4 linked regions of the Homo sapiens genome follow. The protein of the gene in region 2 interacts with the protein of the main gene of each other region in a pairwise test. Each region holds a gene or a part of one and is shown on either strand. Other genes may lie near its edges.

Evidence for each region.
Region 1: the proteins of ZNF835 (region 2) and CCDC6 interact in binary tests that used the Homo sapiens proteins (3 or more experiments, as listed by UniProt).
Region 3: the proteins of ZNF835 (region 2) and GOPC interact in binary tests that used the Homo sapiens proteins (3 or more experiments, as listed by UniProt).
Region 4: the proteins of ZNF835 (region 2) and PRDM14 interact in binary tests that used the Homo sapiens proteins (3 or more experiments, as listed by UniProt).

The regions. Positions count from the first base shown.
Region 1 is NC_000010.11:59,812,557-59,819,556, forward strand, and holds part of CCDC6 (coiled-coil domain-containing protein 6), read right to left. Parts: intron 2,200-7,000; coding exon 2,096-2,199; intron 240-2,095; coding exon 79-239; intron 1-78.
Region 2 is NC_000019.10:56,661,724-56,668,760, forward strand, and holds the end of ZNF835 (zinc finger protein 835), read right to left. Parts: intron 3,523-7,037; 5' UTR 3,476-3,522; coding exon 1,862-3,475; 3' UTR 257-1,861; downstream 1-256. UniProt on the Homo sapiens protein: May be involved in transcriptional regulation.
Region 3 is NC_000006.12:117,571,508-117,578,544, forward strand, and holds part of GOPC (Golgi-associated PDZ and coiled-coil motif-containing protein), read right to left. Parts: intron 5,965-7,037; coding exon 5,941-5,964; intron 3,846-5,940; coding exon 3,670-3,845; intron 2,126-3,669; coding exon 1,960-2,125; intron 1-1,959.
Region 4 is NC_000008.11:70,054,250-70,061,286, forward strand, and holds part of PRDM14 (PR domain zinc finger protein 14), read right to left. Parts: intron 4,594-7,037; coding exon 4,391-4,593; intron 1,153-4,390; coding exon 1,051-1,152; intron 1-1,050. UniProt on the Homo sapiens protein: Transcription factor that has both positive and negative roles on transcription. Required for the maintenance of embryonic stem cell identity and the reacquisition of pluripotency in somatic cells.

The sequences.
Region 1 (7,000 bases), on a different chromosome or scaffold from region 2:
AAATGTTGGTAATACCCTATATTTGGTAAAGTTATTAATTCTACAGGCATGAAACTAGTGAAACCAGAGGCTACGTACGCTGTAACTGAGCAGCTCTCAGTTGCTTCTTCAGCCGTTCCACTTCATTCTTTAAAAACCTGATGTGACGCATCATATTTTCTGGAGAATCAATCTCCATGGAGATATCTCTAGGCGATGGTGGAGCAGAGACGGGCTGGTCTAATTTTTCCTGCAGGATTCTTCATTGAAAAGAAAAATTCCAACAATGACTAACAGTTTTCCTTGAAAAGACAAAACAACATACTAGCTGGCAGGTTTGTTTTAAAAGCAAACTCCTGTTTACTGCCAGAATTCACAGGGTTGCTTAATTCCTCTGCCCATTTTACATCAAACTTCTGCCCTTACGTGGTGTCTCACTTCAAAGGGCAGAGCTGATTCTAATCTCCCTTTTTCCTTTTAAATGACTATTAAATGTTTTAAATTAAACAATACTGAAAAGTCTTTATTTAACAACAGGATCTGATAATTATGCCTGGAATACAGTATGCACTTAGAAATACCTGCTGACTCAATGTTCAACTTCTTGGGTTTAGTGCATGAAGATGCTGAGGAAATTCCATTTTCTTACGGCTTTTGATTGAAGCTTCTAAGCTACTATGAATCTCCTTGGAGGGTAAAGTAACACAGAGACTCAACTTCTAAAATTCCCTCCTGCAAAACTAATTGCAAGGGCATGGCAAACTGGACTAGCGGCCCTTTGCTTTTGGCCACAGCAAAGGTAAAAAGTTAAAAACAAAACCAAAATTGTTAGGTTAATAATTAGTAGTGCCACCTTCTTTACCAATTATTTTTATGTTGAAGGATATAAAATACTGATATTCAATAGCTCTGACCTACAAAATGCAAACTTCCATACTGTTCAACCCAATAATTTGGCACTAATACATGTAAAACCTCCAACTGCCTTTTACAAAGTCTTCCTTTGGCAGCAGATCTCTAAATCCCTTTCCATAGCTGCTGGGGTTTTTGTTTTGTTTTTGCTTTGTACCTTTGAGTTTGTCCAGGAGCAAACTGAGTTACCTCCATCCAGGTCTACCCTTGAGAAAACTAGTGTGTTAAATATTATAATGGTCCCTGCATTTATTACATAAAATGACTTTTCGTAATTCAACTTATTAGTACTGCTACAATAATACCTATCAGTAAAGCATAGTGGATATGATTATAACAAGTATTTCTTATAGATATAGCTCTAATTTTCACTTTTCTTAAAGCTATGTGGTATGCCTGTATTTTGCAAATGTAGACATGAACTCAAAACAATTACAAATATGCATCCAAACCAAATACTTAAGGAGGAAGGGCTCTGGGTAGCAAACAAAAGATCTTGGTGAAGTAGATTAATGACCATTTTTAAGAAACTCACTTTTTACACCCGTACACACATTCCACATACAGAATCTTCTTCCCATTCTTACAAGCCCTGCCTCACACACTCCAAAGTACTCAGTGCTTGAAAATAAGGGCTTAACTATCTTGCACAAAGAGGTTTAAGAAATGTTTGCTGTTGAGTGACATTCCACTTCCAAGTACATACATTTTATATAAAGAATCCTAGCCTTAAGTATGTAAAGGTATTTCTTTACAGTAGGTTTTAAAACAATTTTATTATTAAAATCTCAGGCTTCCTAAAGAAGTAAATTCCAGAGATGTATAAATAATAGTACGCAGTATACCCTATGTACTTTACAAAACAACTGAGGAAGCCAGTTCAATAAGGTGGAAAGTTGAAATTGCAACCATTCTTGAAAATACTTTAAAGGTGAACAATAGCAGCATGACTAATTCTCTCATAGCCTTGTAACACCAAATGAAAAGAAATTCTACTGGGACAGTATGATAGCAAAGAATAAAGAGGTGCCCAACATGGGAATAGTTCAGAAGGCTTTCAACATTTTTTTTCCTTTGGCCAATTAAAATGATGTGCATCACCAAAGAATTAAGGTGTCCTACTGCTATTCCTCAGTCACACCCAGAGCAGCAACACACACACACACACACACACACCCATACTGAACAGCAAGACTAAACAAACCGCTTTTCAGCTTCAAGCTTATCCATCCTTTTCCAGAGGCGATTAACTAGTGCTTCTTGTTCTTGTTCCAATGTATTTTCAAGGTCAATCTTCTCCCGTCTCAACTAAAGGAAGGAAAAAAGTGTTACCAAAGTGTCAGGCCACTTATACTTTGTTAATACATTTTTTGATTGAACAATTAGGACCCCTTTTCTTGGAGAATACTGCAAACATGTGGCCAATTTTCTGGCACAAACATATTAAGTGCATCTAGTTCTTAAACTTTGAAAAAAACTAGATAGGTTCATTCTTGGATGTTAATGCTTAATTGTTGTCTGGTACATGAAATGCATTGCTTGTTTCAGCATTTATTCAAGGCAAGTGGAAAGTCCTCCTTAGAGAGGTCTTTAGGGGAGTTCGGTGTACTAGTCATATCAGGACTTTTCTGGGCTTGTCCCTTACAGTTCTGGGCTTACAGTTATTCTTCCGGGCTTGTCCCTTACAGTAAGTCAGAAAGGTTATATTACTATTCATATAAATAACTCTTAAAAGCTCCCAAACACTCTACATACTGGCTAATGGAGATAAATAAACATGTACTAAGATATAAAAACACGCACAAAATATGATAAACACCAAATCCACAATACTGGTTACTCTAGGTTACTCTAAGGATTTAGGGAAGGAAGAAAATTTGATTTGGGGGAGGCTTTGCAGTTGCGGAGGGAACCCCAACAGTGTTCTATTTCAATGAAGCAAACATGGGAAAATTCAATTAATCAATATTGAGCAATATGTAATAAATACTGAGAACAATGACTGGATAATGGGGGCATAGCAGTGAATCAAGGAGTCAGGAATTTCTGCCCTCATGGATCTTCCTTTTAGTGGGGGTCAAGACAGTAAATGAAACAATTATATACTTGTGAAACAGTATGAAACAGATATGTAGAAAAAGAGGGCTGGTAAGAGAGACTGAAAGTGCAAGAGGTTTCATAGCAATGAGTAGAGGACATGTATTCTATCATTCTCCGTACTTGACATATTAAATAATTAAAAATTTTTTCTTAATGCAAAGAGCCTATGCTACTGCTTCCATGTTATTTCTTCAACCAGTGGCAATTCACCTTTCAATGGTTGAGTCAACAAATTATTCTTGATTGCACAAAGATGTTAATAGATTCCACATTTCCTTAGTGGGTCACAGAGGCAAGCTCCTCATCCAAAGATCCCGTGTGTATACATAAGGCAGAACCAAAAACATGAATAAAATGTAGTCTTTTAAAGCAATCAAACATCAGAAAATAATATCCAAAGTGCGGTTTTACTTTTACAGCCAAATGACATTCCCCTTTCTGAAACTCTTCGTAGCTTAGTCTTAAGAAGCAACAATCTCAACCTCCCGAGATGGTTAGTACTACCAACACCACCCAAGGTCCTTAAGGAGCTCACAGAGAGCAAAAGACTTGCCCATATTCACACAGGAGCACAGGACAGCCAATGAAGGTGAGCAGCTACTTGTTCCACATCTGAGCCAGAATGAATATGCATAAAATCAGCTGCCTCAGAACCTGAACAATCAAGACCTGAGAGGAAATGATATAAGGATAATGATATCATTATGTTCTAAGTTTAGAGAAAAAAAGGAGGTCTCAAACAGATGGGAAAAACTCTCCTGTGACGACACAGCTCTAGGCTTTTCTTTTCTCCTCTCAAAGCCATAAAAATAGCTGTAGAAACAACTGGCCATTTGAATATTTAAAATATTTCCTACAAACAGGTACAGTCACAAAACAGCAGCCAATGCATTGGGGGGAGACTCCTGTAATTACACTTCTGTCTTATGATCATAGACTTTGAGCCAAATGCCTAGGTTCAAATCCCAGCTCCATCAATCACTAGTTAGAAAATGTTGAGAAAATTACTAGATATAATTTTACCATTTGCAAAGTAAGGGACAAAAATAATGTCTGGCTCATTGGATTACAGTGAGCATTACATTTGTAAATCTAGGTAAACCATTGATAACTAATGGGCACTTAGAAAGCACTCAACACTTTTTGGCTATGATAATCACTATATCTGGATATCCGTTCTATTTCTGTTCCAGCCCTCCACAATGTAAGTCCTACAAGGGACTTGTCTTGTCTGTTTCATTCCTTAGTACATCCTCAGTATCTAGAATAACATCTGGCACCTTATAGGCCATCAATATATATTAGAGGGCTTATTTGACAAGTGAATAAGCCATGATTATGTAGCAAACTGGAAACAGAGCTTCAAAATATGTTGTTTTTGCATGGCAGAATTTGATTCTGAAGAACAGTTCAAGGGCAAAAAGGAGGAGGTGCAGGGTGTCAAAATAAGTCAAATATATTGTGCCGCAAAGTTGGGACCCCACTAACGTGCAAATGCTCCTCAGAATGTTAAACAATTCCTACCTGCAGCAACAATGAGAAATTGTGGGACCCTTATATGACTCCTATTAAACCTTGTGATTCTCTGCATTCATCATACACTTTGGCCAAGCTTTGAAGTACAATCCACAGTCATTTCTTTTCTTTTCTTGAGACAAGGTCTCGCTCTGTTGCCCAGGCTGGAGTGCAGTGGCACGATCATGGATCACTGTAGCCTTAACCCACTGGGCTCAGGCATTCCTCCTGCTTCAGCCTCCCAAGTGGCTGGGACTACAGGCACACACCACCACACCTGGTTAATTTTTTATTTTTTGTAGAGATGAGTTCTTGCTACGTTGCCCAGGCTGGTCTTGAATTCCTGGCCTCAAGCAATCCTCTGTCTAGGCCTCCCAAAGTGTTGAGATTACAGGTGTGAGCCACTGCCCCCAGCCTCAGAATTATGTTTATTTAAACAAATAACTATGAGGCATTTACCTTTAAGGATCCCAATTCCAGTGTTTAAAAGCATCATAGGAGGTAGAGGTAGTTGATAAGCAAGAAAAAAATTCAAGCAGGCATCATTTTGCGGTATGATGTCTAGTGGAGAAATGCATACTCAATTACTTTTAGAGTAAATACTCATAATACTAATCAATAACTCTGAGAAGCAAAATCAAGACAAAGCTGTCTTTACCCATATGTAACTAATGAGGCATGTGACTCTGAGCAGGTCACTCAGCTGCTGTAGCTCCGATGCCCTCATCTATGAAATGAGAAGTTTGGCCTGGATGATGCCTGTGGTCCCTTTCTGGCCTATCCATTCTGTCATTCCCTGCCCAATGTCAAGACAGTAGCTGTCTTCAGTCGGGGCTAGTTCCGTCACACGCATTTAGAGCCAGAAGCAGCATGGCAAATCATCATTTTAAAGCTGAGGAAACCACTAGCCTGCAAGATGACATGACTCAGGCAGTCATGCCACCAAGATAGGAACGGATATCGGTCACCATGGCAGCCAAAATTGCTGGGTCCTGTCCAACCAGCAAGTACAGAGGAACTTGAGGGAAACATGGATTTAGGGCAAATCAAGCTGTGGTTTGTGGGCCTATCTCCTTTGCCAACAATACTTGGGAGTAGCAGAGTTGGGGGTAGCTGATGCCAGGGAAATAAGGACAGTTTAGGGAGTCTATGAGCGATTTTGGAAACAGACGAGATCAGGAAACATGGGTTGGAGCTCTACGTGAATCTCGGCTCCTTCCTGGCATCTGTTGGTAGAGTTACCAGCTATCAATCTACTGCCCACCTCAGCAAACGTGGGCACCCTGAGTGTGAAACTTGGGTTTGCTGTCCCAATTTGCTCTACTAATTTATTTCCATGATGCAGGCAACACAGGAAGCCCCAGCTCAGCCGTGTGGATTCTCAAGTACAGTAGGTCCTTGAATGTTCAACGTCCTTTTATTATAATGTTGACGGGGGGGGGGGAAGCAGATTCTCAGTGGGGCCTCTGTCTATGTAGGGTTCACATGTTCTCCTTATGTCTGTGTGGGTTTTCTCCAGATACTCGAGTTTACTTCCATGTCCCAAAGATGTGCAATCGGCATGTCTACATAGTCCCTCTGGAGTGAGTAAGAGTGTGTGTATGAGTGTGTCCTACAATGAGTTGGTGCCCCATCCAGGATTGGGTCCTGCTTTGTGCCCTGAGCTGCCAGGACAGGCTCCAGCCACCCTTGATCTGAACTGGAATAAGCACGTTAGAAAATGAATGAGTACAAATTATTGTAAAATACAAATTCATAAAGTATATGCTAATCATACAAACACATGAAAATCAATGATGCAGTATGCAAGTATTCAGCAAGCCGCTGTAATTGTTACTATTTGCTTTTGAACTGTGAGTTGGGAGGAGGTGCTCCTTACAATTTTTACTTTGCAAACATTTATCCCTTGATTTAACACATCACTACTATGACCATCACTCACTGATTCACTAAAAATGGGGTAATTATACGGTTTTCATTAATCTTTAATATATGCATAACTCATATTTGTTTCAATATTTAATATCAGAAGTATGTTGGGTCTTTATTTAGAAGTGTGATAATGTTTTTGTGACCAGAAATATGTCATAGGAACTTAACTCTTGTTTATATCAATCAGCTTCTGGTAAAATTGATTTTCATATATGTTGTTTCACTTAAAGTCAGTTTCCAAGAACTATACTGACAATGTTAAGTGAGGACTTACTGTATTTCATTACATAGGCTGGCAGTGCTACAGGACTCTATATTATCTTTAACCCTGAAAAGAGCAGGGCCTCTTGTTTTTTCAGTTTTAAAAATCTCAACTTTTCAGCATTGTTGAGGAGCTCTGGCTGACATTAAAGAGCAGAGAAGTTAGAGGAAATCATATTGAGTCCCTTGGTTAATTTCCCCTGAAGTTCTTTATCAGTTTCCCCACCACTTCCTGCCCACCTAATTCCAAATCCTATATACTTAGAGCCAAAGTGAACATAACAGTTCCGCCAATTAAAAC
Region 2 (7,037 bases):
AAAAAAAAAGAAGAAAATTCTGCATATCATATGCTACCATTTGTGAAGAAAGGTGTACTATATATCTTTCCAGAATATTCTATGCATATAAATATTCATATATATGCTTACATATAGTAAGCATTTGCTTCTAGTGAGGGGGACTTGGTAGCTGGGAGACACAGGAGTAAGAACAGTTTTTTTTTTTAACTTTATAAATTGTGGACTACATGAGTGTATTCCCCCATAAAATAATTTTCCAATGATTATAGTCATGTGAAGTTATGAGATTATAACTTTAATTCAACATTGTAGTAGGTGGATTACGTTCATAACTCCTACTTTTCACCCTTCCCTGGGACCACATGCTTAGGAAGGCTCTTCCTGTGCTGATCCTAGGCTTGGCTAGGAGGCTTGCTTTGGCCTGTGGGACTAGATGCAAATGTGACAATATCAGAGACTTGAAAGCATGCCTGTGTGTCCACTCCCTCTCAGACTCCTGCCACCTCCCTGAGAACACACCCAGGTGAGATGTGAGTCAGGAGAAGAAGATCAAATTGGCCCAGCTGAGCCCTCCTGGTCCAGGTCCAGACCAAGCCTGGTCCAGACCAACAGAACCAGCAGCTGACCTCCAGATGCATGAGAAATAGTAAATGGATAAATGAGGGCTGGATGGTTTGTTACACAGCAAGAGCTGACTGATACAAGCATTAAAGTCAGGTCTTTGAGTTAGGGGGAAAAATGGTGGAGATGGGTAGGTGTTTCCTCATACTGAAAAAAAGACTAGGCCCACTCTAAAAATCTTTTGTAGAGGAGAAGCACTCCCTTCTTCTAGAATAACTTTCAGCTCTAGATTTCTCCTGCTCATTTTCTCTAAGCACTATTTCTATCTTAGTGAATCCAGATTTCTTCTTCAGACTCTGCTCCTTTAGTAAATATGCCAACTTGGCCAAAGAAACCAAACCTTTTATTCACTTTAATTCAATTAAATTTACTGAGCAAGGGCTTACTCAATAAAATCAACAATGAAAAGGCCAGCTGGCCAGGCACCGTAGCTCAGGCCTGTAGTCCCAGCACTTTGGGATGCCAAGGCAGGCAGATCGCCTGATGTTAGGAGTTCGAGACAGCCTGGCCAACATGGTGAAACCCTGCCTCTACTAAAAATACAAAAATTAGGCTGGGCGCGGTGGCTCATGCCTGTAATCCCAGCACTTTGGGAGGCCGAGGCGGGTGGATAACGAAGTCAGGAGATCGAGACCATCCTAGCCAACATGGTGAAACCCCGCCTCTACTAAAATACAAAAAAACTAGTCCGGGTGTGGTGGCCGGGCGCCTGTAGTCCCAGCTACTCGGGAGGCTGAGGTAGGGGAATCACTTGAACCCGGGAGGCGGAGGTTGCAGTGAGCCGAGATTGCATCACTGCACTCCAGCCTGGGCGACAGAGCAAGACTCCGTCTCAGAAAAAAAAAAAAAAAAAAATTAGCCAGACTCCTGTAATTTTAACTACTCGGGAGGTTGAGGCAGGAGAATCACTTGTACCCGGGAGGCAGAAGTTTCAGTGAGCCGAGATCGCTCCACTGCACTCTAGCCTGGGTGACAGAGAGAGACACTGTCTCAAAGAAAAAAAGAAAGAAATTAAAGGCCAGCCATAGGTGTTTCTGCAGGTCTACTTGCCCGTGCCCCATTTATAATTTTGCACCAGGAAGACCGCAGGGGAGTCTGGCAGATGTGAGGTACAGTCTTAGCCCTGTGTCTTCCCCACTGTGTGCCCTCAGGCAAGTTAACAAGCTTCTCTGAGCCTCGGTTTCCTCACAGGAAGCGTCGGGGATAACACAGTATCTCCCCCATAGCATTGTGAGGTTGGAAAGGAGGCCCTCAGCTCTTAATCTTCTGCTGGTCCACGCGGGTTTCTGCCAGGGCACCCCTGTTGACAGGTTTCTCCTCCCTGTGAGAGCCCAGGTGTTGAGTCAGGCGTGGGAGCTGGGCAAAGGCGTCCCGAACTGTCTGCATGCGTCCTCTGGTGTCGGATGAGCGCGGAGGAGAAGCTGAAGGCCTTCCCGCAGCCGCTGCACTCGTAGGGCTTCTCCCCGGTGTGCACGATGTGGTGCTGGATCAGGTAGGAGCGGTTGCTGAAGGCCTTGCCGCACTCGGGGCAGGTGTAGGGCCGCTCGCCCGTGTGCGTGCGCTGGTGCAGGGCGAGCGAGGAGCCCTGGCTGAAAGCTTTGCCGCACTCGCCGCACTTGTAGGGCCGCTCTCCGGTGTGGATCTTCTGGTGCTCTATAAGCGAGGACACGTGGCTGAAGGCGGCCCCGCATTGCAGGCACCTGTAGGGCCGCTCACCGGTGTGCACGAGGCGGTGCTGGAGGAGGTGGGAGCGGTTGCTGAAGCGCTTGCCGCAGTCGTGGCAGGGGTAAGGCCGCTCTCCGGTGTGCGTGCGCTGGTGCTGCGTCAGGTGCGACACCTGGGTGAAGGCCTTGGCGCACTGGCCGCACGCGTAGGGCTTCTCGCCTGTGTGGATGCGCCGGTGCTCGGCCAGAGAGGCGCTCTGGCTGAAGAGCGCGCCGCAGTCCTGGCACGTGTAGGGCTTCTCGCCCGTGTGCACGCGCCGGTGCTGGGTCAGGTGCGCGATCTGCGCGAAGGCCTTGGCGCACTGGCCGCAGCGGTAGGGCTTCTCCTCCGTGTGGATGCGCTGGTGGCGGATGAGCGCTGAGGAGAAGCGGAAGGCCTTGGCGCACGCGGAGCACTCGTAGGGCTTCTCACCGGTGTGGATGCGCTGGTGCTCTATCAGGGACGAGCGGTTGCGGAACGCCTTGGCGCACTGGGCGCACGCGTAGGGCCGCTCGCCCGTGTGCACGCGCCGGTGCTGGGTCAGGTGCGTGACGCGCGTGAAGGCCTTGCCGCAGTCGGCGCAGCGGTGCGGCTTCTCGCCCGTGTGCGTGCGCCAGTGGGACGCCAGGTACGAGCCCTGGCTGAAGGCCTTGCCGCACTCGTGGCAGGCGTAGGGCTTCTCGCCCGTGTGCGTGCGCTGGTGCAGGGTCAGGTGCACGCTCTGGCTGAAGGCCTTGCCGCACTCGGGGCACGCAAATGGCTTCTCCCCGGTGTGGATTCTCTGGTGTAAGATGAACGCTGAACAGTAGCTGAAGGCCTTCCCGCAGTCCCCGCATTTCCACGGCTTCTTGGGGCCTCCACCTCTCTCCCGCTGGCGGCTGTCAGGATGCCTCTCCTTCGGGCTCTCCCCAGGCGCGCTGCACCTCCGGGAACTGCTGTCGTCGGGGACACTGGCTTGGGTAGCAGCAGGGCTCGATATGGTTCTTGGGATTCGGCTGAATTCATCGCGTTCCTGCATGCTGTCCCCAGCAGGGTCTCCCTTGCAGGCCACGGCCTCTGGCTCTGGACAGCTTTCCTGGTTTTCCTGCAGGTCCTCAACCTGGCCCTCGTGTTTCCAGTTTCCTTCCAACTCTGCGCCCTGGAGGGCGACGCTCAAGAGTCCCTCCATCCTCGATCCCTGGGCTGCTGTCTTGATCTCACATCTTTTCTCTGGGTCTGAAAAGAAAAAGATAGAAAAAAAAATTAAATGTTGCCACTTGTCCTGAGCTGGAAAAATGGCTAACAGCTGAACTGGTAAGAACTTAGCATGGGGTCCCTGGACCTCTGTGCCAATGACATTTTGGGTCCAATAATTTGGTGTGGTGGGACCCATCCTGTGTGTTGTGAGATGTTGAGCAGCGTCCCTGGTCTCTCCACACTGGCTGCCAGGGACACTACCCCTCAACCCCTGAGTTGTAACAATGAAAAATGTCTCCAGGCCGGACGTGGTGGCTCATGCCTGCAATCCCAGCACTTTGGGAGGCCAAGGCAGGTGGTTGCTTGAGCCCAGGAGTTTGAGACCAGCAAACTGTCTGCTGCCTGGGCAACACAGCAAGATCTCATTTCTACAAATGAAAAAAAAAATTAGCCAGGCATGATGTTGTGCACCCGTGGTCCCAGCTACTCAGGAGGCTGAGGCAAGAGGATCAGCTGAGCTCAGAAGGTTGAAGCTGCAGTGAGTAGTGATCACACTACTGCACTCTAGCCTGGGTGACAGTGTGAGACCCTGTCTGAATTTTCTTTAAAAAGTCTCCAGACACTGCCAGGTGTCCCCTCCCCTGGGGACAAAATTGCCCCCAGTTGGGAATCACTGACTTAATGGAACTAAAAACAAATTTAAAAGATCCCTGAAAAAGAAAAAAAAAGCATGAATCTGTCAGCTCTTAAAATATGGCCCTGTAATCTGGTGCTGTGAACTGAATTGTGCCCCCTCAAAATTTATACATGGAAGCCCTAACTCCCAAGGTGATGCTTTGTGGAGATGGAGCCTTTGGGAGGTGATTAGCTTTAGAGGGGGTCATGAGGGTGGGGCCCCCACAATGGGACTGTTTTATTTTTTTTTTGACATGGAGTCTTGCTCTGTTGCCCAGGCTGGAGCACAGTCTTGGCTCACTGCAACCTCCGCCTCCCGGGTTCAAGCAATTCTTCTGCCTCAGCCTCCTGAGTAGTTGGGACTACAGGTGCACGCCACCATGCCCGGCTAATTTTTGTATTTTTAGTAGAGAGGGGGTTTCACCATATTGGCCAGGCTGGTCTCAAACTCCTGACCTCAGGTGACCCACCCACCTTGGCCTCCCAAAGTGCTGGGATTACAGGCGTGAGCCACCGCGCTTGGCTGGGACTAATGTTTTGATAAGAAGAGGAAGCGACACCAGAGCTCGCTGTCTGTCAGGTGAACACATGGCAAGAAGGCAGCCGTCTGCAAGCCAGGAAGTGAGTCCTCAGTGTGGTCTGACCATGCTGGCACTCTGATCTCAGACTCCCAGCCTCTAGCACTGTGAAGAAATAAGTGTTTATTGCTTCAGCCACCTAATCTGTGATTTTTTTTGTAAGCTGGAGCTAAGATAACTGGAAAGACAGTTTTCTTTTCTGGGGAAAAATCAGTTGAAACTTTAATTCCCAGTGTGACAGCGTTTGATGTGGGGCCTTTGGAGGATGATTAGGTCATGAGGGCATCCTCCTTAATAGGATTAGCGTCCTTATAAGAGGAGACACCAGGGGGCTCACTTACTCTCTGCTCTCTCTGTCCTCTCTGCGTGTGAGGACACAGGGAGAAGGCGGCCATCTGTAAACCAGGAAGAGAGCCCTCACCAGACAGAATCAGCCAACAGTGATCCCAGATTTCACATTATGGGGACACTATTCAACTCACTATGCTCCCCTTCTACAGGGCTCCATCAGTGAAGGAGCTGCCCAGGGTCTCCCAGGCTCAGAGGTTCATGCTGGCTCGTGGGCCCAGGGTCGTTAGAGATGGTGATCTCAAGCTATTGCAGGTTACCCTGTCTGCTTTGCACATTTTCAGTGGAAAGCAGGGATCTGTTTTTATATGAGCCCAGGAAGTCACTGTTTTTTAGAAAGCCATAACAGAAGCCATACATATAGTTACTTCTAGTGGGGCTGTGATGCTGAAGGATTTATACCAATTGCCTGGTGTACACTGGACCTGCACGCTGGCGAGAAACTCACCACTGACTTCTGATGCTTTAGTTCTAACAGAATGGGAAGACAGATGGACAAATGACCTCCTGGTGCTGAGAGAGGGAAGGAGGCAGCTGCCTGTGGATCCACTGTGCTGGGGCTAGCCCCAGAGGAGGGGGCTCACACTGCTGGGAGGTCCTTTCCAGGCTGTGTGGCTGCAGGTAAGTGGCTACCTGCTCTGAGGCTCTGCCTGGTTTTCTCTCTCTAAACAGGGCTCCAGCCTCCCCTTCTCCCGAGGGACATGGCAGGTCTCTCAGCAAGCTTGGCCTCATGTTATGTGTGGGCTCAGCCCCTCACACACAGGCATTCCCTGAACCAACTAGTAGGCTGTGTGCATACAGCAGAGAGTGCTCGGCCTTTGGCTCCTCCGGGTACACTCCTGCTGCTGCTGGACAGGCTACGTCTGAAGCTTGTCCTCCCCACTTCCTGTGTGAGATCCTAACCCTTTGTGGTGGTGCTAGGAGGTGGGGCCTCTGGGAGGTGATGATGACATGAGGCTGGAGCCCTCAGGCGTTGGATTCCTGCCCTTATAAAAGAGGACCCAGAAGGCTCCCTTGCCCCTTCCTCCAAATGAAGACACAACAAGAGGGCCCGGTCTATGAACTAGGAAGCAGCCCTCACCAGACACCAAACCTGCCGGCACCTTGACCTTGGACTTCCAGCCCCTAGAACTGTGTGGAAATAAATGCTGTTTCTTTCTTTCTTTCTTTTTTTGTTTTTTTGTTTGTTTGTTTTGTTTTGTTTTTGAGATAAGAGTTTCGCTCTTGGTGCCCAGGCTGGAGTGCAGTGGCACAATGTTGGCTCACTGCAACCTTCACCTTCCGGGTTCAAGCGATTCTCCTGCCTCAGCCTCCTGCATAGCTGGGATTACAGGCATGCGCTACCATGTTCAGCTAATTTTTTGTATTTAGTAGAGATGAGGTTTCACCATATTAGTCAGGCTGGTCTCAAACTCCTGTCCTCAGATGATCCACCCACCTTGGCCTCCCAAAGTGCTGGGATTACAGGCATGTGCCACTGTGCCCGGCCAATAAATGCTGTTTCTAAGCCACCAGAGTATGGCATTCCGTCACACCCCAAAGGACCTAAAATAGGGCTTTTTTTTTTTTTTTTTTTGAGACAGGGTCTTGCTCTGTTGCTCAGGCTGGAGTGCAGTGTTGCAATCATAGCTCGCTGCAGCCTGGGAATCCTGGCTCAAGTGATCCTCTCACCTCAGCCTCCCAAAGGGCTTGGATCACAGGCAGGCACCACCAACCACACCTGGTCAAGACAGGGCTTTTGTGTGGGCTATTCTTTCTGCCTGACATGCTCTTCCCGCAGCGTGTGCCTCAGCAAGAGGACAAGAGGAGACCCTGAGGGAGTGATGATGTTTGTGTTCAGGGTGGAGAACACAGCAAGTGCAAAGGTCCCAGGGCAGGATGGTGACAAGGGTGGCAGAGGAAAGGTAAAGGGGGTGGGGCTGGACAGAGCAACTGAGGTGCAAGGCAGGGGAG
Region 3 (7,037 bases), on a different chromosome or scaffold from region 2:
TCTTCCAGTTTTAAAATACTGATCATGTGCAAATGCAAAACAAAACAAAAAACCTTTCAATCCTTCACTATCTTCCTTAGCAACTACCATCCTCCCCCTTTCCTTAACCTCTACACGAAGTTCATCCTCATCATATCTACTTCCTTGCCACTCACATTCAGTCCTCTGGTCTCTGTAATTAGAGTTTTGCCCCTACATGCACAACTGGAATTTTCTTTTCTGTGGTCACCAGTAATCAATATTGTTACACACAATTAACACTTTTTGTCACTATCCTACTTCAAACTTGCAGAAAGTTGATACTGTTCATCAACCCCTCCTTGAAACCCACTCTCTCTGTTAGTTTTTATTACACTACTTTCCTAGATGGCCTGTATCTGACAGCTCCATCCCAGGCTCCTTCCTTTAGTGATCCTTTTCCTTCTCCCACTCCATAAGTTTCTATCCTTGGCCTCCTATTCTTTTTACTACATATATACTTTATATATACATATATACTTGGAACAGGCTTAATGAGTTCCAAGGTTTCAAGTATAATAGAAGGATAGTTTCCCTAATATTTCTTCAAAACAGATTTCTCTTCTGAAATCCAGAGTCATATGTCCAGTTGGATGTATCTTGGATACCCCATTGTCACCTCAAACACTACTTGTCTAAAACTGATCTCATCATCTTTTCCCCAAATCCTTCCTTTTCTTCTATTTCCCTTCCCAGTGAATGCCAGATCTCACTCAGTTGCTCAAACTAAAAGCCCAGACTCTTCTTTTTCACTATTTAACCAAAAGCAGTTAGTCACCAATCAAGCCCTCCTGATTATAATCCTCTCAAATCTATCCTTCTTCTCAAATGCCACTTCTCCTGACCTCATCACTTTCTCCTTGGATGACCATAGTATCTTTCTAATATATCTCCTTGACTCCAACTTGGTCCTCTTCACTATACCAAAATAACTATTAAAAAATGTAAATTTTATGAAGTCTGCCATTTTATTTAAAACTTCCATGATTATCAGGTTAAAGTTAAAATTCCTCTATTTAGTATAAAATAATTTCTATAATCCAGCCACTACCTAAAACCCCAACCTCATATTTAGCTAATTTAACAAGCATGCTTTTATCACTCAGACACATCTGATACAAACTACTTTGTCTTCCTCCTAACCGCTCCATTTCCCAAATCTACTGGACCTAGAAGTTAATGGGAACCACCAGTGCCCTAGAAAACAATGGCATAAGTGCTTATCGCTATCCCCACTTCTCTTCCACCAACTCTATTTACATACCAATTCTTCTTACAAAAATCTTTGCAGAGCCAACAAACTATTTTACTATTTAAGGCCATACATTATCTGGTACTAAGATATGTGAACCCTTGGGAGACATGCTTTCATATATTAAGGTCTATATTATCAAGCAGCTGTTATGATAAAATTCAATAAAGATTTATCCAGATAGAAGCTTTTATATAATGGTGGCTACAGAAGCAGACAACTGGCTACAGATCTCAAATTCTATCTTAATCCAAGACCAAACAGGTGTAAATGTTAGTTCAGAATCTACATTTGGATTCAGTTACTAAAAGTTCCCTTAAAGAACTACCCCAAAATATCTGCCAAATTATCAATATGACCACACACTCTAAGCTAAGATTAAAACAAATTCAAGCATGCCCAATCATGATCCAGGAAAAACTGGAAATATGATCCAACATTATAGCAATATGCATTTGCTAACAATGGCTCACTGTCTGCAGCACTCTCAGGGCATTAGTAAGTCTGTGAAGAGCTACTAAAATTTCTATGGGTGTTGAAACTTCATCTACTTTGAATAAGTTGAATCCCATTTTCACTTTTAAATAAAGGTTTCAAACAATACTAGAATAAAGGAAAGAATGGAAAGCAACTGTGATTAAAGAAAGAAAGAAGAGGCTGGGTGGGAAGCAGCAGCAAAGCAAACATACATGGCCTGGTGGTGCTTGCATTGGTCGTTTCAAGTCATTACGTCCTCTGCAGGCTCGGATCACAGTTTTGTGACGATGCAAATGTATTTCAGCTTCTAATTGGTTCCAAAGCTTATCATGAGCAGGTCCCTTCATATCTCGTCCTAGCAATTGTATCTGTTGGACCCTTCATATTGGGAAAAGAGTACATTGATTTTTCATTATATTCACTACAGTGAGAATTCAGGAAAATTAGTGAACATAAGTAGCTTTTGCATGAATCTCAAATTAGTGATAAAACTAATACTCACGAACTTCTTGATGTCTCTCAGATATAAAAAAAATATGAAAACTCTGAAAAGAACAGGTATCCTCAAGGGAAAAACCAGTAAAAAAAATTTTTAAAGGAATTAATGTGAACTCCTTTAGTCATATACTTAATTCAAATAAATCTAAAAAAAAATTTATGAGATTAATGTCAATCTATGTCTTGCATGCAAAGTCACTGAACTCAGATACTATTAAATGTTAGCTTTTAGATGAGATAAATGGACAAAAATATTTCTTCTAATTAGAGTTTCTTTTCACAAAATGATTACTTTAAATGTGGTTAAAAGTTACTAGAACCAGCCAGGGCAACAAGGCAAAACCTTAACAATTAACCAGGCATGGTGGCATGCCTGTGGTCTCAGCTACTTGGAAGGCTGAGGTGGGAGGATCACTTGAGCCTGAAAGGTGGACGCTGCAGTGAGCCAACGTTGCACCACTGCACTCCATCCTGAGCGACAGAGTGAGACCCCATCTCACAAAATTTAAAAAAAAAAAAAAGTTACTAGAAAATTTGTACTTCAAGATGATATAAATTATTTTTTCTTTGTTCCATGTTTTTAATGTGACATTAAAAGAATATGCACAAAATGATTTAGTACTAATAAGTCACCAAAGTTTGTTAATAATTTACTTAATAAATACAGCAGAATTCTGTGTATGATTATGATAAAATCATTGTCATTAACTAAATACCAACACGTTTTTTTGAAGGGCAAGAAAGACTGGGTTTCAGTGATCATAAAAAGAATTCCTTATGGAAGTTCTGCTATGCATGTGAATATCGGCTGTACTGGTCTCAAGGCACAAAATAGTTGAAAAGTGCTGCTCTACAGAGTTGTTAGCATTTCACAGTAAGATACTATCAGTGTTTGTGTGTGTAAACTAAACATATTTAGTATGGATAACTAGATCTGCGATACATAATGCTGTCAGTATTAATTTAACAACAGTAAGTTAAAACCAACTGTAAAATAATTCTGAGGAAAAAGATTAATGCTTCATTTACCATAAGAAAAAAGAGTAGGCCAGGTGCGGTGGCTCACACCTGTAATCCCAGCACTTTGGGAGGCCAAGGTGGATGGATCACAAGGTCAGGAGTTTGAGACCAGCCTGGCCAACATGGTGAAACCCCATCTCTACTAAAAATACAAAATTTAGCTGGCCGTGGTGGCAGGCACCTGTAATCCCAGCTACTCAGGAGGCTGAGGTAGGAGAATCGCTTGAACCCAGGAGGCAGAGGTTGCAGTGAGCAGAGATCATGCCACTGCACTCCAGCCTGGGCAACAGAGCAAGACTCCATCTCAAAAAAATAAAAAATAAAAAAAGAAAGAAGTAAGAGTCAACCTCATTAAATATCCAATTTGTCACTTAAGAGTACAATAATACCCATTTTTTACACACCTTCCTGCCAGTTCCTTATCCAAGTACTTGGCAGCTAGTCTCGCCCCATATACTTCAGCCTGGAGAACAGCTATATGTCTACGAAGGGCTTCATTCTCTTTTCTCAACAATTTCACTTCAGCTTCAAGTTGTGCTTCTTTCATTTTTTCTTTTTTGTTTGCCTCAAGCTCTCTTTCCTATGTAATTTTTAAAAGCATATAATTTAATGAAAATAAAAACTCTTTAGCACTAGACCATGTTCCTGAAAATGCACAAAAGCCTACAGTTCAACAATGTATCATCTCTATAAAATGGAACACAAAGATCTGGATGTAGTTCTTTTGAACTAGTACCATAACATCTTGGAACTACTTCTAGATAAAATAATTGCACGCCATGGGTTACCCTGATATGGAGTATAGTAAGAAAAGTAGTCTACTCTAAGCTCATGTTATCACATATTAGTAAAAGTGGCTTCAATGGATAGTTGAATCTGCTATTTACTTCTAAAACCCTTTTGAGAGTTAAATAAGGACCCCAATAGACATTTTAACTGTTATTTATAGATCAAAAAAACCACGTAAACACTGAAAACTTGCATTTATCCTGAGCAGAACTGCTTTTACAGAATCCACAAATCCTATGAAAACATGGTTACATTTGTTCACAATATGTGGAAGACATTATTCCCTATACCCCCTTTGTCCCTTTTGTGAGGACGTAAATAAAAACCTACCTTAGCACCAGAGAAATTGTTTCTCTTGAGGAAATGATGAATAGTATTGTTTCTATTGTATGGGCACTGATTATTTTACATAATTATTTCCCTTTTTATTCTGGATATTGAGAAGCTAAGAAACAAATTTAAGCAAATTTTCAGCAATTCATGGAATATATTTTGGTACTAATTTAATGTGCCTCCTTTGGTCTACTGTTTTGAACAACATCAAAATAGATATATTTGAATACTAGTCAATAAATACGATAATCCTAAAAAAAATATATTTACATATACACACACACATACAAGCTAAAATTAATGACAACTACTAAATGCTAGATATATTTATCACTTCTTTGATTAAAAATATTTGTTATATATATGACAAACAGATGAAAGATTAGCAGACTCAATTTCTGGGAAAAAAAAGATTAGAACGTAATTTCTAGATACTGGTTTTAAAGGATTCGAAAAACTCAATCTAGAATCCTCCTTTTAACATAATTTTGGAATTATTAAACTCTTATTTCAGAACCTATGTCCTAAAAGGGCAAGTATCTGTTTCAAAAGAAACCAGTTTGGAGATACAAACAAAAATCTTTCTTATGACATGTTAAAGTTGATGCAACTTTTGAAAGAGCACTCCTAGACCAAGATTTCTTTGGCTTATGGGCTAAATAAACTTTATGTTGATGATTACCTACTTTCAATTACTTTAATGAGCTATTTATACTACATTAATGAAATGTGGGAGACATACTAAGCTACCACTCACTGGGGTTTTAATGATTCAAATCCCTAATGAATCTGACAAACTCTTGGGCCCGAAATTAACAGAGGTAAGCAAGAATAAGATGAAGGAAACTGAAGTTAACCATTTCTAGATTTCCAGAAAAAAATTTTCTTGGTTCTTAGTTAACCTGTTTGTTACTAGGTAACACCCAAGATGTTCATTTTACATTTAGATACCAAAGATTATATCTTCAAAAGAGGTAAAGCCATAAGACAAATTGGAACTTGATTAGGTTGGGGTAATGAGAAAAATATTAAAAATGTATTGTTATTTTCTAAAATAACTTCTGCTAAAGCATTTCAAAATTCAATTGTTTCAAAGGCCATACGATTATTCTCAAGACTCTTGAAAAGTTGTAACGCAGTAGATGAAGAAGAAACCAACATGCACATTCTTTTCTGGAAATAATTTCAAACAGAAACTTAAGGGGGTTAAAAACTAAGCCTGCTTGATATATCTTCAATACCCTGAAGTGGGAAAACCAATTGCTCTTTGAAGTAGAGGTATGAGCAAGCTACAAGGCTCAAAAATTGTCAAAAATTGACAGGCTCTGCAAATAATGGCTATAAATCACTAACAAAAGAAAAATGTTTAACAACATGCAGTGAGAAAAGAGCAATGGGCCATCCACTGAACTTTTCAGGTACTGGAACATTAAAAAATTGCCATTATTAATGCTATTTTCAAATACAATGAGTGACAACATATAATATGCAAATAAAACACTAAGAACACTTCAGCGTGACATATTAAAGCAAAACAGAAACAATATACTTACCAGCTCCTCCACAGAGGGGCCAGACTTCAGATATAAGAAAAAAGTTTTATAATTAGAAAAAGATCAAACAAATGATTTTATTTAGTGGTATAGTCATTATAAGGAAAAATCCCACATGTTGGATATCATTTGGGTAAAGTTCATTAGAACAAATATATTTGCAATCTATAAACAATAGTAACTGTAATAGCATTAGATTAAAACTTTTTGTTTTATCAAAATTAGTCAACATAACTGGTACAGTGTTCTTTTCATCATACTCTTTCAAATTCTAATGTTAAAACTTCAGGTAAATTCTTTTCTAGAGAAAATTTAGATTGTTTCTGAATGTTAATGTCAAATAGCTCGAAGAAGCAGTTATGAGCTTTTATTTCAGTTAAATAAAACCCTTCTAACACAGATTCACAGAGTTAGAAAACTTAAGAGTTTAACTTAAAATTATTTTCATGAATTTTAACACATCAGTACTAGGAACTAATTAACCAAATGAAATTAACTGAAAACAAATAAAACTTATAAATGTATTACTCTCATTATATCATCAACATCATTTCATGTCCTGCCTCTGCCAAGCAATAGCTGTCTTATTTATTGCTGTGTCCCATATAGGAACAAAATATCTGCTATCTCTTACACACTCAAAACATATGTGGTACACAGTGGCAGGAAAAATGCTTACAATATATTAAGAGCAAAAGAAAAGAATGTGCTACTGGTTGGTACCCAATTCCATTTCTTACTTCTTCCTTATTAACAGACTCCAGTTTTACTGGAAGTGGCCATATGGCCAATAGGAGACTGACATGCAGCTGGGGATGGTCAATGAAATGCTGGCAAAAATTACTGAGAAAGATTTAATAATAAGTTCTTTAAAGAAGGCTAACATCATGGAGAAGCATCTTTTTGCCCTTTCCTTAGATTAATCCTTCTTCCTGCCTGAAATGCAGACATGAAGAAATCCTGAGGATGGAAACCATAAGCTAAAAATGGCAGAGCACAGTGATGGAAGGAATCTGGATCTCTAATATTTGTGGAGCTGCCGTATCAACTCTAGACTGCCGGTCTCAGATTTCATTTCAGAGAAAAATAAGTACTGT
Region 4 (7,037 bases), on a different chromosome or scaffold from region 2:
AGTAGCATCCTTCACAGATTAAAGTAGTAATAATAGCAGTTAACATTCCAGTAGTACTTTTATGTTATGCCAGGCACTGTTACAAGAGTTTTATATACTTTACTGATGTTATCCAACAACTTGGTAAAGACTATTCTCCCCAGTTTATCAATGTGGAAACTAACAGGAGTTCATGGACTTGCTCAGGGTGGCACAGCTAGGTAAGCACCAGAGGCAGGATTTGAAACTTGGCCATGTTTGTGTTCTTAAATACTATGAAATAGTGATTTTTTTTTTTTTTTTTTTTTGGAGACGGAGTTTCACTTTGCCACTCAGGCTGGAGTGCAGTGGCACAATCTTGACTCACTGCAACCTCTGCCTCTGGGTTCAAGTGATTCTCCTGCCTCAGCCTCCCAAGTAGCTGGGATTACAGGAACGTGCCACCATGCCCAGCTAATTTTTGTATTTTTAGTAGAGATGGGGTTTCACCATGCTGGCCAGGATGGTCTCGAACTCCCTATCTCCAGGCACCTGCCCACCTCAGCCTCCCAAAGTGCTGGGATTACGGGCTTGAGCCACCACGCCTCCCCACCCCCTCCTTTTTTTTTTGAGACAGTGTCTCACTCTGTCACCCAGGCTGGAGTGTGCAGTGGTGCAATCTTGGCTCACTGCAACCTCCACTTCCTGGACTCAAGCAATTCTCCAGCCTCAGCCTCCCAAGTAGCTGGGACTACAGGCATAAGCCACCGATGCATGGAAAATTTGATTATAGGTGTGAGCCACCACACTCAGCTAGTGCTTTTAAATACTATGTAATAGGTCATCAGGTCCCCATAAATTTGGAATGTATTTTATTACATGTACTCTAAATGCCAGCTTGGCAATAGGAGGTTGGTTATATTTGACCATCTTTAGCAAACTTGAGCATATTTAGGGGTGGAAATGAGGACTGGGCTGATATTTGACTAACATTTACCAAGAACTCATTAAGCCAGGCTTTGTTTCAAGTTCTTATCCATAGACACTCAAGCAGAGCTCAGGACACATCCCTTAGTAAGAGGTTCCATTTACCTTAGTACAATACACACACTGGTATGGTCTGTCTCCAGAGTGGACTCGCATGTGTTTGTTTAGGCTGGAAGATTGAGAGAAACATTTCCCACATGTAGAACACTAAGGTGAAAAAGAAAAATATAGTTGAAATCACACCTTCCTCTAACAAGTCCATTTCAACCTTGCGTTTACCTGGGGTTAGAGAAGAACTCTTTTCCAATTTTTTTCTTTTTTTTTTTTTTGAGACGGGATCTCAATTTGTTACCCAGACTGGACTGCAGTGGCACAATCACGGTTCACTGCAGCCTGGAACTCCCAGGCTCAAGCGATCCTCCCACCTCAGCCTCCTGAGTAACTGGGACTACAGGTGCGTGCCACTAAGCCAGCTAACTTAAAAAATTTTTTTTTGTAGAGATGAGGTCTCACTATGTTGCCCAGCCTTGTCTTGAACTCCAACAGATCCTCCTGCCTTGGCCTCCCAAAGTGCTAGGATTATAGCCTTGAGCCACGGCACCCGACCTGAGAGAACTCTTGCTTCAGATGTGGAATGTGGGAACTGAACAGGTTTGTGGTATATGGCAGAGGCCTGAATTAGTCCTGCTCTCTCAACAGGTAGCTGTGTGACTACAGAACATTGGTTAAATCTGGAATCTTAGTTTCCCGATCTTGCTCATGGGCAAAATACCTGCTCTGCCTTCCTCACAGAGCTATGAGTAAACTACAAGTACTGTGCAATTAACTCAACAATTATCTACGACTTACAGAGTACCTACTGTGTGCTCCACACTGCTAGAAACCAGGAGCTAGAAATCAAGGAGGGGTGACGATGAACATGTAAGCCAACATGGTAATGCACAGTAGCAGATTATCTGAGACGTGTTGAACTTGCATGAAGAGGTTAATATTTTGTTCACACGCTGTGAATAATTAATATTGTTTCTTGACCCTGGCAACTCCTCTCGAAACTGTCTCAGGAATTCTACACCAGGTGAAGTAAACTACCAGAGAGGTGCAAGCACCGAGAGTTTGCCAGGGATAAAGCAGAAGGCCTTTGGTTTTGACATCACTTTTAAGGAAATTACACTAACTAAAGAGAAAAAACAATTTTTCTCTGAGAAAGGTTTCTGTGCTTTCACAACCTCTTTCCAGGCATGCTTATGGGGCAGAGGAGAGAGCAAATCTTTGTATTTGTTTATTTATTTATTTTTATTTATTTTTGAGGCAGAGCCTCGCTCTGTTGCCCAGGCTGGAGTGCAGTAGCATGATCTCGGCCCACCGCAACCTCTGCCTCCTGGGTTTAAGCAATTCTGGTGTCTCAGCCTCCCGAGTGGCTGGGACCACAGGTGCGCACCACATGCCCATCTCTACAAAAAATACAAAAAATTAGCTGAGCATGGTGGCATGCACTTATAGCCTCAGCTCAGCTACTTGGGAGGCTGAGGTTGGGTGATTGTTTGAGCGTAGGAGGTGGAGGTTGCAGTGAGCTGAGATCATGCCATTGTACTCTAGCCTGGGCAACAGAGTGAGACTGTCTCAAAAAAAAAAAAAAAAAAAAAGATTGTTCCTCCACTGTACTGTAAGAGCACCTCGTCTGTTGAAGGGTAAGCCATCATCTCACTATCACCAGCTTCCTCATCAGTCCTGTCATCTACTGACCTCCTGGTTGACAGCCCTCCAGTTTCTTTTCTTTTTTTTTTTTTTTGAGACGGAGTCTCGCTCTGTCACCCAGGCTGGAGTGCGGTGGCGCGATCTCGGCTCACTGCAAGCTCCGCCTCCCAGGTTCACGCCATTCTCCTGCCTCAGCCTCCCGAGTAGGTGGGACTACAGGTGCCCACCACCACGCCTGGCTAATTTTTTGTATTTTTAGTAGAGATGGGGTTTCACCATGTTAGCCACGATGGTCTTGATCTCCTGACCTCGTGATCCACCTGTCTCGGCCTCCCAAAGTACTGGGATTAGGCGTGAGCCACCACTCCCGGCCTCCAATTTCAAAGAGAGCAAGCATTCTATACATCTTCTGTAATTTGGTTTTTGCTTGATAAGACAATATTTTTTTTTTTTTTTTGGGATGGAGTCTCACTCCTGCCACCCAGGCTGCAGTGCAATGACACAGTCTCGGCTCACTGCAACCTCCGCCTCTGGGGTTGAAGCAATTCTCCTGCCTCAACCTCTAGAGTAACTGGGGCTACAGGTGCCTGCCACCACACCCGGCTAATGTTTTTATATTTTTAGTAGAGATGGGGTTTCGCCATGTTGGCCAGGCTGGTCTCGAACTCCTGGCCTCAGGTGATCTGCCCACCTCAGCCTCCCAAGGTGCTGAGATTACAGGCGTGAGCCACTGCGCCTGGCCAGTAAGCCATAATTTATATAATCAATTTTGTGTTGATGAACATGCAGTCTCAAACTTTTCACTATCAGAATACTGGATAGTTTTCACTTTTGCCAGTCTAATAAGCGAGAAATACCTTCACCGTCCTGATATTTTTAAATCCTTTTAGAATTACACAAATGCATGATAACTGTAAATGTATTCAAATTTTATAGGAGTATATAATATAGTGATTAAACATGACTTTTCCAGAAGCTTAGGAAGGAAGGGAGAAATTAGGACAATTTTATGATGATTTTATTCTCAGTTTTCAAAACAGGAAAATGGGCTCAAGGTCGTAGCTGCCTGAGGTAGTTCCGACAAGGCCAACAGTCAAGCAAGAATACATCTGTGCCCAAGCCTCGTCCTCCTTTTAATTAAGCCCAAGGGAATATTGTACTTTTTTGCAGCAAGCCTAGCAGAGCATCCAGGTATTTGGAATGGCTCCGTAATGTCATTACTGATTTTCTGTCTTACAAAATCCTCGGCCCACTGTAGAGGCCTTCCGCTCCTTGGAAGGACCGTGCCTTCACTTCCTTCTTACCTATACCTGTCAACACACCTGCACAGATTTGGAACAAGGCGCAGTTCCCCAGGAGCACATGCCAGGCTCTCTCCTGTCTGGAACAGCTCGACTCTTTCCTGCCCAACTAACCCTGCCACCAGTATAAATCAGACACCCCATTTGTCCTTCTATACTTGGCTCAAGGCCACCTCTGTGCATCTTTCATAATCCACGTGTCCAGGTGGCCGTGGACACTCCTTCCTCCATGTTCCTCCCTCTGTGGGTACCTGCATCCTAACACATGTGCATCGCTGTGCCTATTCACGCCTGCCTGTTCCGTAATACTATCCTCTCCTCCTTCAGAGAGGGTGTCCGTCAGGCATCACAGCCCTGCAGCTAGCACCTACAAGGCAACTCCCCGTGTTCAGGAGCTTGGGAAGGGAGAGAGAACGTGATGGTGGGTCATGTGTCCTCCTAATACTCACCTTGTGAGGCCGGTGCTTCTCATGAACATGAAGAATGTGGATCCGAAGCCGGTCCCGCTTCTCAAAGGATCGTTTGCAGAGAGAACAGGGAAATTTCCTATCGCCCTTGTCCACACAGGGGGTGTACTTGAGGTGCTTATCTCTGTAATATTTGTAGGTAAATACCTTCCCACATCTTTCACATCTGTAGCCTTCTGCAGACTCTGTCAAACACAGCAAACACAATGTCTCTTCAGTTACTTCCCTCCCTAGTTCCTTCAAGAGGATATTTATTTATTTATTTATTTTTAGCCAAGAATTCTTTGGCTACTTCAAGAGGAATTTTCTTTTTTTGAGACAGAATCTTGCTGTATTGCCCAGTCTGTAGTGCAGTGGCACGATCTTGGCTCACTGCAACCTCTGCCTCCCAGGTTCAAGCGATTCTCCTGCCTCAGCCTCCCAAGTAGCTGGGATTACAGGTGCCCACTACCACGCCTGGCTAATTTTTGTATTTTTAGTAGAAACAGGGTTTCATCATGTTGGCCAGGCTGGTCTAGAACTCCTGACCTCAGGTGATCAGCCCCTCTTGGCCTCCCAAAGTGCTAGGATTACATGCGTGAGCCACTGTGCCTGGTCAAGAGAATTTTCTTTTCTTTTCTTTTTTTTTTTTTGAGATGGAGTCTTGCTCTGTCACCCAGGCTGGAGTGCAGGGGTGTGATCTCGGCTCACTGCAACCTCCACCTCCCGGGTTCAAGTGATTCTCCTGCCTCAGCCTCCCAAGTAGCTGGGACTACAGGCACACACCACCACGCCCAGCTAATTTTTGTATTTTTAGTAGAGGTGGGGTTTCACCATCTTGGCCAGGACAGTCTTGATCTCTTGATCTTGTGATCCACCTGCCTCGGCCTCCCAAAGTGCTGGGATTACAGGCATGAGCCACCATGCCCGGCCGCCAAGAGAATTTTTAAAAACCTTTTTATTACAGAAAAATGTAAACATACCAAAGTGAAAATAATAGTGTAATAAACCCTCATGTGCCAAACACCAAGCTTTGACCAACTCGTAACTAATTTTGTTTTCATTTATATCACCGCTCGCCATAGTAGATTATTTTAATACTAATTCATCCTTTGACTCAAAAACATCTAACCGTAATCTTTAGAAGATGACATATTTTTAAAAAGCATAATTGTGACCAGGCAAAGTGGCTCACGCCTATAATCCCAGCACTTTGGGAAGCTGAGGCAGGTGGATCACCTGAGGTCAGGGGTTCAAAACCAGCCTGGCCAACATGGTGAAATCCCGTCTGTACTAAAAATACAAAATTAGCCAGGCGTGGTGGTGCCTGCCTGTAATCCCAGCTACTTGGGAGGCTGAGGCAGGAGAATCACTTGAACCTGGGAGGCGCAGGTTGCAGTGAGCCAAGATTGCACCACTGCACTCCAGCCTGGGCAACAACAGCAAAACTCCATCTCAAAAAAAAAAAAAAAAGCATAATTGTGCCAGGTGCAGTGGCTCACGCCTATAATCCCAACACTCTGGGAAGCTGAAGTGGACAGATCGCTTGAGCCCAGGAGTTTGAGACCAGCCTGGGCAACATAGTAAGACCCCATCTCTACAAAAAAATAATAAAAATTATCTGGGCATGATAGCACACGCCTTTAGTCCCAGAGGCCGAGATGGGAGGATCACCTGAGCCTGGGGAAGTTAGTTGAGGCTGCAATGAGCAGTGATTGAGCCACTGCACTCCAGCCTGGGCAACAGAGCAACACTTTGTCTCGAAAAAAAAAAAAAAACATAACCATAATGTCATTGTCACATTGTCATACCTAAACGATTAACTCTTATTCTTTTATAGAAACATATATGTACTTATATATGCACATTTATATACACACATATATATTTGTTTAATTACTTTCTGGTCAGTCCATTCAAATTAGGCTTCAAACAAAGTCTACATGTTGTATATGGTTGCTATGTCTCTTAAATATCTTAACCTATAGGCTCTCTTTCCCTTTTGTTCCTTGATATGTACTGTTGAAGAGACCATTCCACCAGCCCCATTTAAGGGCAGTGCAACCCTGCAGCTCTTGAACACATTCCTGCCTGGCACTTGTTACAAGGTTAATACACTGAGGCACTGAGGCCGACCTATTTCTCTTTGTGCCTTTAAGATCAGCCTGAGTTACAAGCTCAGAGCAGTCACCAGGACACCCGCAGCTCACAGTGCTGTTCTATTCTACACAATTCAAGGGACCTTCTTAGTTTATACTTCATTACTCAAAACTTGTGGCAGATTCCAGAGCTAGAATCTTTATGTATAGAGTAAGGTTGAAAGCATCTTGACTTCCCTAATGCACAGGGTTACCGTGATGACTAATTTAATTCTAACACTTACCGAGTCTTACCAATGTGAGTGATACTATCACTGAATGGCAGACAAGACTGAGAGGTAAATCTGTTTTTATCAATGGAGGAGGGAGGAGGAGAGAAGTTAGAGAGGGTGCAGCTAGACTCTAGCAAAGCAGGTCCCACGTCCAGGGGTGTCTATGTGTTGGGGGAAGGCGAGAGAACAGGGGCCACCTACAAAAGCATCCCTGCAGAGGACACTCTGGATCCCAGAGGATAAAGTGGCTTTGACTATGAATGCACCACAGAGATCTCA